Linked DNA regions of Homo sapiens: all the other regions are reported to be linked to region 2. The links are microRNA targets in miRTarBase. Many come from high-throughput screens and were not tested one by one. Region 2 holds a microRNA gene; each other region holds the end of a gene's coding sequence.

Region 1 (4,062 bases), not on the chromosome of region 2:
ACTAGCGGGCTCCCCACCTGCAAGAGGAAGGGGCACCTTGGCTGTATTTCTCTTTTGTCCAACAAACCCTAACTCAGCCTCAGGTGATCCCTTGATGGGGGAGATGGCCATGGGCACCCCCACCCAAGCAAGGGACCCAGGTGTCTCCTCGGGGCCCATTGGACTGGGGCATGGAGAACAGAGTCCCGGCTGTGTGAGCAGCCCAAGGAAGGCAGCATTCCAACCTCTTCTTCCCTGGGAACGGTCCACAGTGCCTCACTCGCATGTCCTCTCCTCCCCACAGTGGACAGACGGTCCACCCCCCGTGCAGTTCCAAGCTCAGAATGGACCCAACACCAGCCTGGCCAGCCTCCTGTGAGGCCTTGATGGGGCCATCCAGCTCCGCAGGGCCTGCGCGTCTCCGGCTTCCACCCAGACGGCACTCAAGCCTGCCCCCGAGGCGTGCTTCCTTCCTGATTGTCTCTAGAGCTTCCAAGTCCTGGGAATGTGCGGGGCCAGTCCCTGCCCTCCCAGGAGGGGTGGTAGCCGTTCCCACCTCGCAGCAGGACCCCCAGTGCAGAGGCTCACAGGTGGCACACAGGCGCTGTCTCTCCAGAGCCATCCTTCAGAGTGGACCTCAGTGCCAGTCCTGCCTCAGCATCTGGGTCACGTCGGCCAGGAGTAGGGTGCAGGCCTCCAGCAGGTCCTAATCCTGTGTGCCAGGGCAGGCAGTGCCCCAGGGGCACCACGCCTGACTCTCCATCACCCAGGCCTTGATGCCGAGCGGGAGTAGAGTGTTTCCTCTGCTCAAGGCAATTTCCAGAGCCCGGATGCCAGTTTCTGGCCTGAATTTGGAGGGAAGAAGTAATGGCGCTAGTGTGGGACGAAGCACAGATCCCAGCACTTTTCCCAGCTTTCTCTCCAGCATCAGTCCCTGCAGCAGCTGGGGCCTCTGGTCAGGAACCCTCAGGGACCCAGGAACTCAGCTTCCAAACATCTGCACCTTGACCGGACTCGCCATCCCGCCGTGGGGGTGCAGGTGATTGTAAACACGGGTGTGCATGTGGATGCACACGGGTGTGCGGTGAAGATCTGTGGAGATGGAGCTGGGAGCTGAGGCTCCTGTTGCACCAGCCACCTTCCCCCATCTTGTGGCTGCTGAGGGGCAGGAAGCGGGGGAGTGGGCTCGTCTCCTAAATTTAAGATCACCTCCTCAGCTAGCTTAGAGTGCGTGGCACGGGCCCCCCGCCCCCGAGATCTGGAGCCCAGGGACTTTCTTCCTGGCAGATCTGTGGCCTTCCCTGCTCAGCCTCTTGGTCCCCCCACTCCCTCCACCGCCTCACCTTCCCTGCTGGGTCTCTGGGGCACAGTGTGAAACCCGCACCCTAGCCAGGCCCCAGGGAGCCTCCGCTGGGCCCAGACAGCAGCGTTTGGTTTTATCCACTTTTCTTGGATAATCAGGAGGTGCCCCAGTGGTCACAGTGTGGCATTCCGAGTTGGGGCGGGTGGTCGGGTCAAGATAGCAGCAGCAGGTGTCAGGGCTCAAGACACCACCCCCTCCAGCTTCTGGGGCCCAGGAGCCTCTCCCTGCTACAGGGGGTGGGGGTCCTGCTCAGCAGGGTAGGTGGTGGTTTTAGGTCTTGTCACCCTCACTCAGTGGAACTGCCTCTGGGAGCTTTGGCGTCTGTGACTAAAGGGACGCTGGATTGCTCAGGTCAGCTGCTTGGGGCTCCCAGGCTGGGTGTGCCTTAGCCACAGGCAGGGCTGTCAATAACCCCCTTCCTCACTGGCCACCACCTGACATCAGCACCAGTGACAGGCTGGTCAGAGGGCGGGGCTGGTGAGGGTTTGTCCTAAGAGGACCACCGCCATCTCTGGGTCTCCAGGGGGAGAGCCTGGCCCTGTCCTTTGCTACCCAGGGCTGCCCCCAGGCCCATGAAGCCAATAGGAGAGCGTGTGGCACTGGCCCACAAACTGTCCCTGTCCTGTCTTCCTCCCGAGCCATGGCCTCTGCTAGCTCCACCTTGAAGGAGCCCCCCACATCCTCCCCTACATCCCAGAGATGCCACCACTTGTGTCTCCACAATGTGCTCCTGCCCACCCGGGTTCCGCACTGTCCGACCCCTGCACACCACTCATGTCACCACGGCGTGCATCATGTTCATCCCCATCTATTTATTTAAGCCTTTCTTTGCTTGTAGGGCATTTTGTATGTAGAGCAGTTGAAAACAGAACCTCAGAACTTAACATCTGTCCTGATGTTAAAGTGCTTTTCATGACCACCCTGTTATCTATGTATATGTAAAGTTAAGGATGAGATCTTAAGTTTACAATTAAAAACTCAGTACTCAATATTTAATATTCTACTCGAGCTTTATGGAAGCCAAATCATGTGCATGTGTGTGTGTGCGTGTGTGCAAGCTTTGAACCTCCTTCCACAGCCGCATCTTCTCATGACACAAAGCTTTTGATAAGTACTTTCCTGTGGGTCGCTCAGCGCCTCATAGCATCTCATTCAATTGCAAGAATAGAGGCCAGACACGGTGGCGCATGCCTGTAGTCCCAGCTAACTGGGAGGCTGAGGCAGGAGGATCACTTGAGCCCAGGAGATTGAGGCTGCAGTGAGCATGATCGCGACACTGCACTCCAGCCTGGGTGACGGTGAGACTTTGTCTCAAAAAAAAAAAAAAAAACAATGGAAGGCAGACAGCAAGTCCCTGAGGACACATCACACAGTGTCCTGTAGCTAAGTGTCTAGGAAAAAACAAAAACTCCAAACCCTTCAGTGGATGAGGACAAGGTCGCAGAAAGGCATTCTGTTGACAGATGAACAGCCGAAAGCTGGCCAGACCCTCCTGTATGCCTCTGCCCTTGTCCTGTGGGTTGAGGGGGTCTGACCAGGAGGCCACCTACAGCAGGAAGTGAGGCTGCCATGTTTCCTTGAGACACAGCTGCCTCTCCCCAGCTCTGTCCCTGTAGTCACCTGCCGGTGGGCGAGGATCCTCTCCCTGGGATAAGCACTCCCAGCCCCGTTTATCAGAAACACAGGCAAGGAAATTGGAACTGCCACCCAGCCCAGCATGGTGGCTCAATTGGTTGGTTGCGTTGTCAGTTGTCTCTTCGTTTTGTTAAGGTTTTTAATAAGTACGTTTGGCATAATGTCTTTTAATGGGTTTGTAATATTTGTAACGGTTTTAGCAGCCTATAACTTTTCAGCTGGTGCTTTTACTTAGGGAAAAAAACAATTTGTAAATACAGAACATTGTTTAAAAGACATAACCATAGAACATAGCTTCCTGTTTGTGGATTTTGTTTCCTATATATTCAAAGTAAAATGACTTACAGGAGCCACGTGCTGTGTCTTTGTTGTTTCCTCTGTCCGCTTTGTGAGCCATCCCAAAGACGGCTGCCACCCTTGCTGCCATGCCCACAGGGGCCCCCTCTGTGGCGGGGTCTTCAGCATGAGGATGCAGTCCCCAAATCCTGAGCCAGATGACGTGAATGGAAGCCTGAGTCCCCATCTCCTCCACTGATCATTTTCCTCTGGTCTGGCCTCGCCTAGAGAGGAAGGAACCCCATGCTCCATCAGCATATGAGGCCTTCAGCAGCCTGCTCCTGGAATCCTCCCTTCCCAGCCCTCTCAGGGGCAGACTCCCTCATGCACCCAGGTGTCCTGGTCCCTGTGTTTTTTTTTGTTGTTGTTGTTGTTTGAGATGGAGTCTTGCACTGTCGCCCAGGCTGGAGTGCAGAGGCGCGATCTCTGCTCACTGCAACCTCCACCTCCCAGGTTCAAGCGATACTCCTGCCTCAGCCTCCCAAGTAGCTGGGATTACAGGTGCCCGCCACCAAGCCCAGCTAATTTTTTGTATTTTTAGTAGGAACAGCATTTCACTGTGTTGGCCAGGCTGGTCTTGAACTCCTGACCTCGTGATCCACCTGCCTTGGCATCCCAAAGTGCTGGGATTACAGGCCTGAGCCACCGCGCCCAGCCGGTCCCTGCATTCTTAGAGGGGACCAGCCTCCATACACCTGGGAGTGAGGGGAGTTATTTGCCCAGATTTTTTTGTTTGGAGGTGAAATTAC
Region 2 (4,065 bases):
GCAGGCTCTGGGCATATTGCCTGCTGCCCACGGTTTCAAAGCTGCCAGCACTCGCTGGGCTCCGCCTGCTGCCCCCCCGGGGGTCACAGGCCACATGGCTTGGTGGCCGAACTCCACGTGCTGGCTCCTCACAGCTGTCACCATGGCCTTGGCTACCCGCTGCGTCCCTCAGGAGCTGCCATCAGGTTCTGAGGTGCCTGGTCTGGAGGCAGTCCAGGTGGTGAGGTCTGGACTGGCTGGACCCCACCGATGCTCCTGCCGTCACCCCGTCCTGGCCCTCACTGGAGGCAGGGACACTCAGGGGCCCGGGGCCTCGGGGCCAGTGCTGCAGTGGCCGCCGTTGCTCTCACAGCGGGTCCAGGCCTGGCTTCTGAAGGCAATGTGCCTGCGTCTCACACTCAAAAGGGCCTGCCAGGCTGCACCTGGCGGCAGCTCCCACGGGGGACGATGTCCTGCTGTCTGTTGGCCCCCAGGTGGGAGGGACGGGCGTGGAGCTGCAGGCAGTGGGCAAGGCCATGGCAGGTGGCCAGGCCTGGGAACCAGCCTCCAGGTGGCATCCACGCTGAGGCCTGAGCTCCGGCCGACAAGGACTGGGGATGCAGGGGATTAGCCAGGGGCTGTGTGGGGGAGCCCTGGAGCCCTGTCTGCGAGTTACCCCGATGAACAGGGAGACGCGGCAGAGGCAGGGCCGGGGAGGGGCCGTGTGGGGGAGCCCTGGAGCCCTGTCTGCGAGTTACCCTGATGGACAGAGAGACGCGGCAAAGGCAGGGCCGGGGAGGGGCCGTGTGGGGCCTGGTGGTCGGCAGAGGAAGGGTCTGTGCTCCTCCTGCGTGTGGTGGCACCGGAGCGCCTCCCAGTTCCTGGTGTTACCGCACCAGCCGCCTCCCAGTGAGCATCTCCACGTGTGCCGACAACAGCTTTGTTGAGGTAGAACTTACCAGACTCACCTGTTAAAAGAGTGCAGTTTGGTCACTCTTAGTGGTTTGTAGAGTTGTGCAGCCGTCATTGCAATCCAGCGTTGCAGCATTCCACAGCCCACAGGGACCCCCAGCCCCACAGTCCAGTGTTACAGCATCCCGCAGCCCAGAGGGACCCTCAGCCCCAGACGGCCACTGACCGGCTTCCTGTCTTGGTTTGCCTTGTGCAGAAGGTGCGTGGATGTGGGGCCACAGGACGTGGCTGGCTGGGTTTGCCTTGTGCAGAAGGTGCGTGGATGTGGGGCCACAGGACGTGGCTGGCTGGGTTTGCCTTGTGCAGAAGGTGCGTGGATGTGGGGCCACAGGACGTGGCTGGCTGGGTTTGCCTTGTGCAGAAGGTGCGTGGATGTGGGGCCACAGGACGTGGCTGGCTGGGTTTGCCTTGTGCAGAAGGTGCGTGGACGTGGGGCCACAGGACGTGGGGCCCCGTGTCTGGCCTCTTCACTCGGCACCGTGCCCTCCAGATTCATGCACCTGCAGCCCGAGGCAGTTTCATTCACTGCTCCTTTGCGGGATGAACCGCATTTTATCTATTCATGGACGCTAGGACTGCTTCCACGTGGCTTCTGTGGACAATGCTGTGAACATTGTTTACGAGGTTTTGCGTGGACCTGTTTTCATTTATCTTGCATAGATACCTAGGAGTGGGATTGCTGGGGCGTGTGGTGAACTTTCATAATGTCTTGAGGAACTGCCAAGCCATCTTCCGCAGCGGCTGCATTACCTAGTTCCCACCGGCAACGCTGGGGAGGGTCCTGGCGTCTCCACTCCCTCGACAGCTCCTGCCGTTGTCTGTCCTTGTGATTCTGGCCGTCCCAGGGGGTGGGAGCTGGTGTCCCCTTGGCTTTGATCTGCGTTTCCCTGGTGGCCAGCCATGTGGGGCCTCTCTCCCTGTCTCATCCACCCGTGCCTGTCTTTTTTTCATTCATTCACTTATTTATTTATTTAGAGACAGGGTCTTACTCTGTCACCCAGGCTGGAGTACAGTGGTGTGATCACAGCTCACTGCAGCTTCTACTTCCTGGGTTCAAGAGAACCTCCCATCTCAGCCTCCCAAGTAGCTGGAACTACAGGCGTGCACCACCATAGCTGGTTAATTAGAAAAAAAAAATTTGGCCAGGCGCAGTAGCTCACGCCTGTAATCCCAGCACTTTGGGAGGCCGAGGCGGGTAGATCACCTGAGGTCAGGAGTTCAAGACCAGCCTGGCCAACATGGTGAAACCCCATCTCTACTAAAACAAAAATTAGCTGGGCGTGGTGACGGGCACCTATAATCCTAGCTACTAGGGAGGCTGAAGCAGGAGAATCGCTTGAACTTGGGAGGCGGAGGTTGCAGTGAGCCAAGATTGCACCACTGCACTCCAGTGTGGGCGACAGAGTGAGACTCTGTCTCAAAATAAAAATACAAACCCTGAGCTTGGGAGGGTCCAGGCTGCAATGAGCTGCGATCGTGCCACCGCACTCCAGCTTGGGCGACACAGTGAGACGCTAGACGGTGTCTCAAAAAACTTAAACAGAAAAATGTAGAAAGGATTGTCGTTCCCTTTCTCGTTTTCCAGAGGGCAGAGGACTCTCGGCCCCTGCTTTTTGAGCACCAGGCCGAGTTTCAGACCTCGGGATGGCCTCTCCAGTCTGCAGCTCCCGGCAGCCTCGGGCCACACTCCCGGGATCCCCAGGGACTGGCCTGGGACTACCGGGGGTGGCGGCCGTGGCTCTGGCTATGGGGAGGGAGGCAGAGCCGCGGGGCAGGCGTGGGGTCTGCTGTGCCGGGTATGTGGGGCGTGTGTTAGACTTTGGACCTGGCCTGCGGGGTCAGGCCGTGGTGTATGATGACGCCACGCCGCTCTTTCTCTTTCACCCTGGCCTCCTGCCTGGCCCTCCCCTGGGTCGGCATCCCTGGGGCCACTCCTGCCCGTGCCCGCTGCTGTGGGGCCTGGGCTCCAGGCAGCTCCTGTCTGCTGCTGCAAACAGGCCCCCAAGGTGCATGGTGAGGAGACCCCCAGGCTAGAGATGGGCGAGAGCGGTGGGCGAGCAGACTGCGGGAAGGCAGCTGGGCCTCCACACGCGGAGCCCTCCCCACCACGTGCATGCACAGGCGACCCCTGCCGTGCTCCGACGGAGGGCGCCGGGACTGGGGAGGGTCAGCGCGACAGCCCTGGCGTTTACTGAAGAGCTGCCTGCCTGGCTCGCTGCCCTGGTGGCCGCTGAATTCTCCCAACGCCCCAGGACAGCAGGTGCTGTGGCCCCATGACCGCTCCCCCACATGGATGAAGGGGTGGTGCACAGGCTGGTGGAGCCTGGGAGAGCCAGGGCAGCCTGCGGCCATGCGGCCATGCGGCCGGCGTGGGGCTGAGGTCCCTGTACAGCTGACAGAGTGCCTGGCGCCCTCAATCAGTAAGTCATCTACGGGCCGGGCACCGGCGGCTCAGCACAGAGAGGCAACAAGGGTAGACCCCCCCTGGCAAGGCTGACCGGCGCCGGGCTGTGGCCAGACCAGGAGACTGCAGCCCAGCTCGAGGGAGGCACCACGCCTGCCCCTCAGAGCACTGAGCAGAGCCCCCCATGGTATCCCCCGCCCTGGGCACAGCAGGAGGAGCTGCCGACCAAGTCTGGCACCCCGGTGTGCCCCGAGAGCTGTCTGGGCACAGGTTGCGGGGCTGCCCCGGCCGGACGGGGCATCTGTGTTTCTCGGTGTGGCCTCAGGGCTCTGGTGGCTTTGACCGAGGCCCCGGGGGACAGAATGCAGCTTCCTGCTCCTCACTTTTCCTAAGAAAGGGGCCGCCTCCCAGGACTGGGGCTGCGCCAGTCACAGGCCCGCGGCCTCCACGCTCCGGGTGCTGCTGTCCCGGCTGCTTCAGGGCGGGCTCTGTCTTGCACGCAGCGAGCGGCTTCATCACCTCCCTTTTGAATTGGAGCTGAGTGTCGGCAACGCCCAGATAACTGGGGCGCGCGGGTCTTTTGTGCTGGATTTTTCTGTACAGTTGCCTCGATCTTCCATCCAGCTTGGCCTCTGTGCAGTAAGGAGCGGCCCGTCGCCTCCCCCACGTCGCCTCCCCCACGTCGCCTCCCCCACGTCGCCTCCCCCACG
Region 3 (4,062 bases), not on the chromosome of region 2:
AGGCACACCCCCTATTAGGGCGGAGACAGCCTGTGGCCTGCCGGCTTCTCATCAGTCACTGTGGAGAGACCAGGGTGCCCACCCGAGGCCAGCCAAAGGCGTACTCCGCTGCTTGGAGCCCCTCGGAAGCTCTAGGGGACGTGGTCCTTGTCAGGGGTCTGGCCAGGGACGGGCCCGGTGCTGGGTGGAGCAAGCTGGGCTGGGGTCCAGGGGTCTGGGGCCACCCTCTGCTGGCCGAGGCCAGACCTGGACATGCAGGAGCTACAGCCCTGGGCATCCTGGGAGGGGACTTGTCCGGGGAGCTGGAGTGCAGGGGGGATGGTGGGGCTCATACACTGCCCTCCCCCAGCCCCCCCGGCACCCATGCAGAGCATCTCCAGCGGCATCAGGGAGACAGTGAGCCCCCAGGACATCGTGCAGGACGCCATCCACAACTTCTCCCCCGCCTACCAGCACTACACGCAGCAGGCCACGCACGAGGCGCCCAGGCCCGGCACCCACCCCAGCGGCGGCTCCGGCGGGAGCAGGAAGAGCCGGAGCCTGGAGAAGCGGATGCTGATCCCCTCGGAGGACCTGTAGGGGGGCCTGGGCTGCCAGTGCTGTAGGGACCCAGGCTGCCCAGGCCTCTGGGGAAGAACAGGGTCCCCCCACCCACCAACTCCTGCCAAAGGTGGGGCCTCTCCTGAGAGCCCACCTGTGAGGCCCTCGGAGCCCACTTCCCATCCTCCCTCCAGCCAGGGGGTCAGGGCACCTGATGGCCCTGGCAGGCACCCAGGTGGGCCCGCCACCGCAGGAGAGGGCACCTGAGCCAATCGGAAGAGCCTGGGGACCCCCTGGGATCACCCAGCCATCAGCCCCAGGAGCCACTGTGGGGCGGAGAGTGAGTGTGGCTGCGGGGCCTTGGCTGCACGGACCCCATGGGAGCTGTGAGTGGGTCAGACTCCCTGGTTCAGGAGACAGACAGCGGACGGATCCCAGGCTGGGCAGCTGGAGGGAGGGGCGCCGGGGCGCTGGGCAGCCGGGCTCTGACACAGTCAGCAGCTCCGGGCGCCGCAGGCCGGCGGGGTCCACACAGGCTGGCCGGGGCTGGGCCTCCTTGGAGCCTGCTACGGCCCTCGTGGGCACGTGGAGAAGGGCCCACGTGTCTCCACACGCCAGCCACAGGGGAGCCCTGGCCAGGCGCCCAGCCAGGGGAGCGTGTGCCTGGGATGGGTCACAGAACCAGCGGGCACCTGTGAGGCTGGCCAGCACCGTGGGGCTGTGGGAATCGCTCTTATTTATATTTAAACACCTTGGATTTTCTACCGGGTCTTGGCTTCTGTTCCCGCAGGGCATGAGCCTGAGGAGCAGGACGCGGTGGGGGTCACAGGAGGCTGCTGCTCAGAGTCTGCATGCGGGAAAGGGGTCCCACCTGTCTGGGGTGGGCAGCCTCGTGGTCCAGGGCAGTGCAGGGCAGAGCCTGGGCTGTGCGATCACAGCCACTGCCTTTCTCCTGGGAGCCTCCACTTCCTCCAAAACGGGCCTTGTGCCAGCCCCACCCGCGGCGAGCGGACAAGGCCACGAAGGCAGGGCCCTGAGTACCTGGGCGGGGGGGACACTCCCAGGGGGCACAGAGGGGGCTCCCACCTGGGCACCTGCCTCCTGCCCTTCTCTTCTTCCTCCACGTGCCAGGTGGGGCCCTGGGTTTGAGGAGCCTCGGACGCGTGCCCTGCCCGCAGGAAGCTGGAGGCGTGCAAGTGGCCTCGGAAATCGCGGCCGCAAGAACAGTAGCCGCCCAGGGACTAAGGGGGCTTCTGGGAGGACACACGGCTGGCCCAGGGCGAGGGGTGTCACTGCAGGGCGCCCCCCAGGCCCAGGGCCCGTCAGGGGACAGTACGGTGACCCGGCCTGCAGGTGGCAGTCAGTTCTGTGTGTCTGGGGCCCGCAGCACAGGTTGGGTGGGGGCTGGGGCAGGGGCAGCAGAAGTGGGCAAGGCCTGGGGGGCTCAGGCACTGGGCGTGGAGAGCAGACAGGAAGCTCCAGTGGGCACCACCCCGGGACCGCGGCTCCCACCCGTGCTGCCCCCCACCCATGGCCACGGTCACCAGGAACAGCGGGACCTGGGGTCTCCGAGGGACTCAGCAGGGCGGGCACAGACCAGTGGAGTCCGGGCTAGAGAGGGCCAGCTCCCAGCCTCTTGCTTCCTGGGCTGAGGACATGGGGATCCAAGGCCAGTGGGTCTGCAGGGCCCAGCCCGGCTGCCTGATAAGATAGGCTGAGCTCCTCCCTGCACGGCTGCAAAGACGCCCACCTGTCTTATTGGATCCCCACAGGAATAGACCCACCAGGCGGCCCCCGTGTCTCACTCTGTCAGCAGGTCCCCAGGGACCTGCTGCCGAGGGGCAGTTTCTGGAGGCTGGGGGCACTGGCTGGGCTCTAGGCCTGCTCTGCCCTTGCCGTGGGGAAGGCCACCCCGATAGGGGTCAAGTTGCTCAAATCTGCGTTTGGAGGGTGTGTGGCCGAGGGCTCCCTTTCTGGAGACCCAGACACCGCCTGGGCTCCGGGCGGCAGAGGCTGAGGTGTCAGGGGCTGAGCCCCTATGTCAGCAACACCTCAGGCCTGCACTTTAGGACAGGGGAGAAGTCAGTTTCCGCCAAATGCCCCCTCAGACCAGCCGAGGACTGTGCCAGGAAACTGACATGCTCAACGCTCAAGCCAGCTGGGACAGCGACCGAGCCCAGAGAGACGGAGCAAGTTGCCTGAGGTCACAGAGCAGGGACTTGGACACCAGGCAGCCGGCTCCACAGAGGCCCTCTCTCCTCCCTGCCTCCTGACCCTCAGACGCCTCCGCCCCACGGGTGAGGCTGCTTCTGCTTCTTTCCAACACGACTCGAAGGAAAGCCCTGAGGGCCGAGCCCGCTCTGCGTGGACGGAAGGCAGCGTGGGGCGGTCCAGGCCGGGGCTCAACCTGCCTCGAGGGGGAGCGTGGGCGCATGTGAGCGGGAGGGACGGAGACTAGCGTGGTTCCAGTGTCGTCATCGCTGCTAAAAAAGGGGTTTCCCGGTGACAGGCCCCGACAGAGGAGCAGGCCATGAGGCAGGCAGGAGCCGCGTATCTGGGCCCAGCGCACCCGCCAAGCTCTCTAGCCTCTCCTGGCCTCAGTATCCTTCTCTGGGAGATGGTCCAGCTGAAAATCCCCAGCATCCACAAGAAACGGTGGAAGCCCTGGGGGCCCTGGCCTGGCCCGGGTGCAGGCTGCATGGCCGGGCGGGGCGGTGTCTCCTTTCACAGCTTCCCCGTCTGTCCGCAGCCTCCAGGAGCCCCACACAGGGCTGGGGCTCTGTGCCCCCAACTCACACCCGTCGGCTCCCCCAGGAGGAGCAGGCTGGGCCCAGAGCCGCAGGGTGGGCTGCAGGGAGGTCTGACTTAGCTGGGGAAAGTGCCATCCCTGCCATTGCTAGTGACAAGCTCGGGCTGCTGTGGCCCCAGCACAGATTCAACACTCACTGCGCTATGTGCCAGCTGTTGCACACTCACCTCCACACCCAACTCACAGGAAGCAAGGCTGGGAAGGAGGGAACTGGCCCCAGGCCACACAGATGCTGCGAGTTGGGATTATGATCGGGTGCAGTGGCTCACACCTGTAATTCCAGCACTTGGGGAGGCCAAGGCGAGTGGATTGCTTGAGCCCAGGAGTCTGAGACCAGCCTGGGCAACATGGTGAAACCCCATCTCTACAAAAAAAAAATACAAAAATTAGCTGGGCGTGGTGGTGCGTGCCGGCGGTCCCAGCTACTCAGGAGGCTGAGATGGGAGGATTGCTTGAGCCTGGGAGGTCGAGGCTGCAGTGAACTGTGATCACGCCCCTGCACTCCAGCTTGGGTGACAAAGCAAGATACTGTCTCAAAAAACTCGAGTTGGGATTTCACCCTGCGTGGTCCAGCACTGAACAGCGTTCACACCTCGGTCAGCTCAGCCCCAAAAACGGGGAAGGCCGGGCGGGGTGGGGACGGCATGCGGGCAGGCCCGTGGCTTTTCGGAGGAGTCCACGGGCTTCCGGCCACTGTGCAGGGGCGCTTTGCT

What was found. Region 2 holds the annotated microRNA hsa-miR-3176 (ACUGGCCUGGGACUACCGG, at 2,656-2,674, shown strand). A microRNA usually pairs through its seed, bases 2 to 8, with sites in the 3' UTR of a target mRNA and lowers its output. Matches are read on the target gene's strand: a 7mer-m8 pairs with bases 2 to 8, a 7mer-A1 pairs with bases 2 to 7 and ends in A, and an 8mer does both.
Region 1: the mRNA of MAU2 is a reported target of hsa-miR-3176. Seed matches in the 3' UTR shown: 8mer at 2,511-2,518 and 7mer-A1 at 2,823-2,829.
Region 3: the mRNA of TMEM184A is a reported target of hsa-miR-3176. Seed matches in the 3' UTR shown: 7mer-m8 at 2,208-2,214.

The regions. Positions count from the first base shown.
Region 1 is chr19:19,355,425-19,359,486 of GRCh38, forward strand. MAU2 (MAU2 sister chromatid cohesion factor) reads left to right here. Exons shown (of 19, transcript NM_015329.4): 19 at 284-3,330. The coding sequence ends at 358. LOC124904656 (a long non-coding RNA gene) reads right to left here. Exons shown (of 2, transcript XR_007067163.1): 2 at 3,287-3,537. Among named protein-coding and RNA genes, the nearest start is that of MAU2, 37 kb to the left of the region's middle.
Region 2 is chr16:540,681-544,745 of GRCh38, forward strand. It overlaps MIR3176 (microRNA 3176), which reads left to right and starts at 2,597; the gene lies at 2,597-2,686. The region is part of intron 3 of CAPN15 (calpain 15); the gene reads left to right.
Region 3 is chr7:1,543,469-1,547,530 of GRCh38, reverse strand. It overlaps TMEM184A (transmembrane protein 184A), which reads left to right. Exons shown (of 9, transcript NM_001097620.2): 9 at 350-4,062. The coding sequence ends at 579. Among named protein-coding and RNA genes, the nearest start is that of TMEM184A, 11 kb to the left of the region's middle. RefSeq lists an enhancer at 2,962-3,111.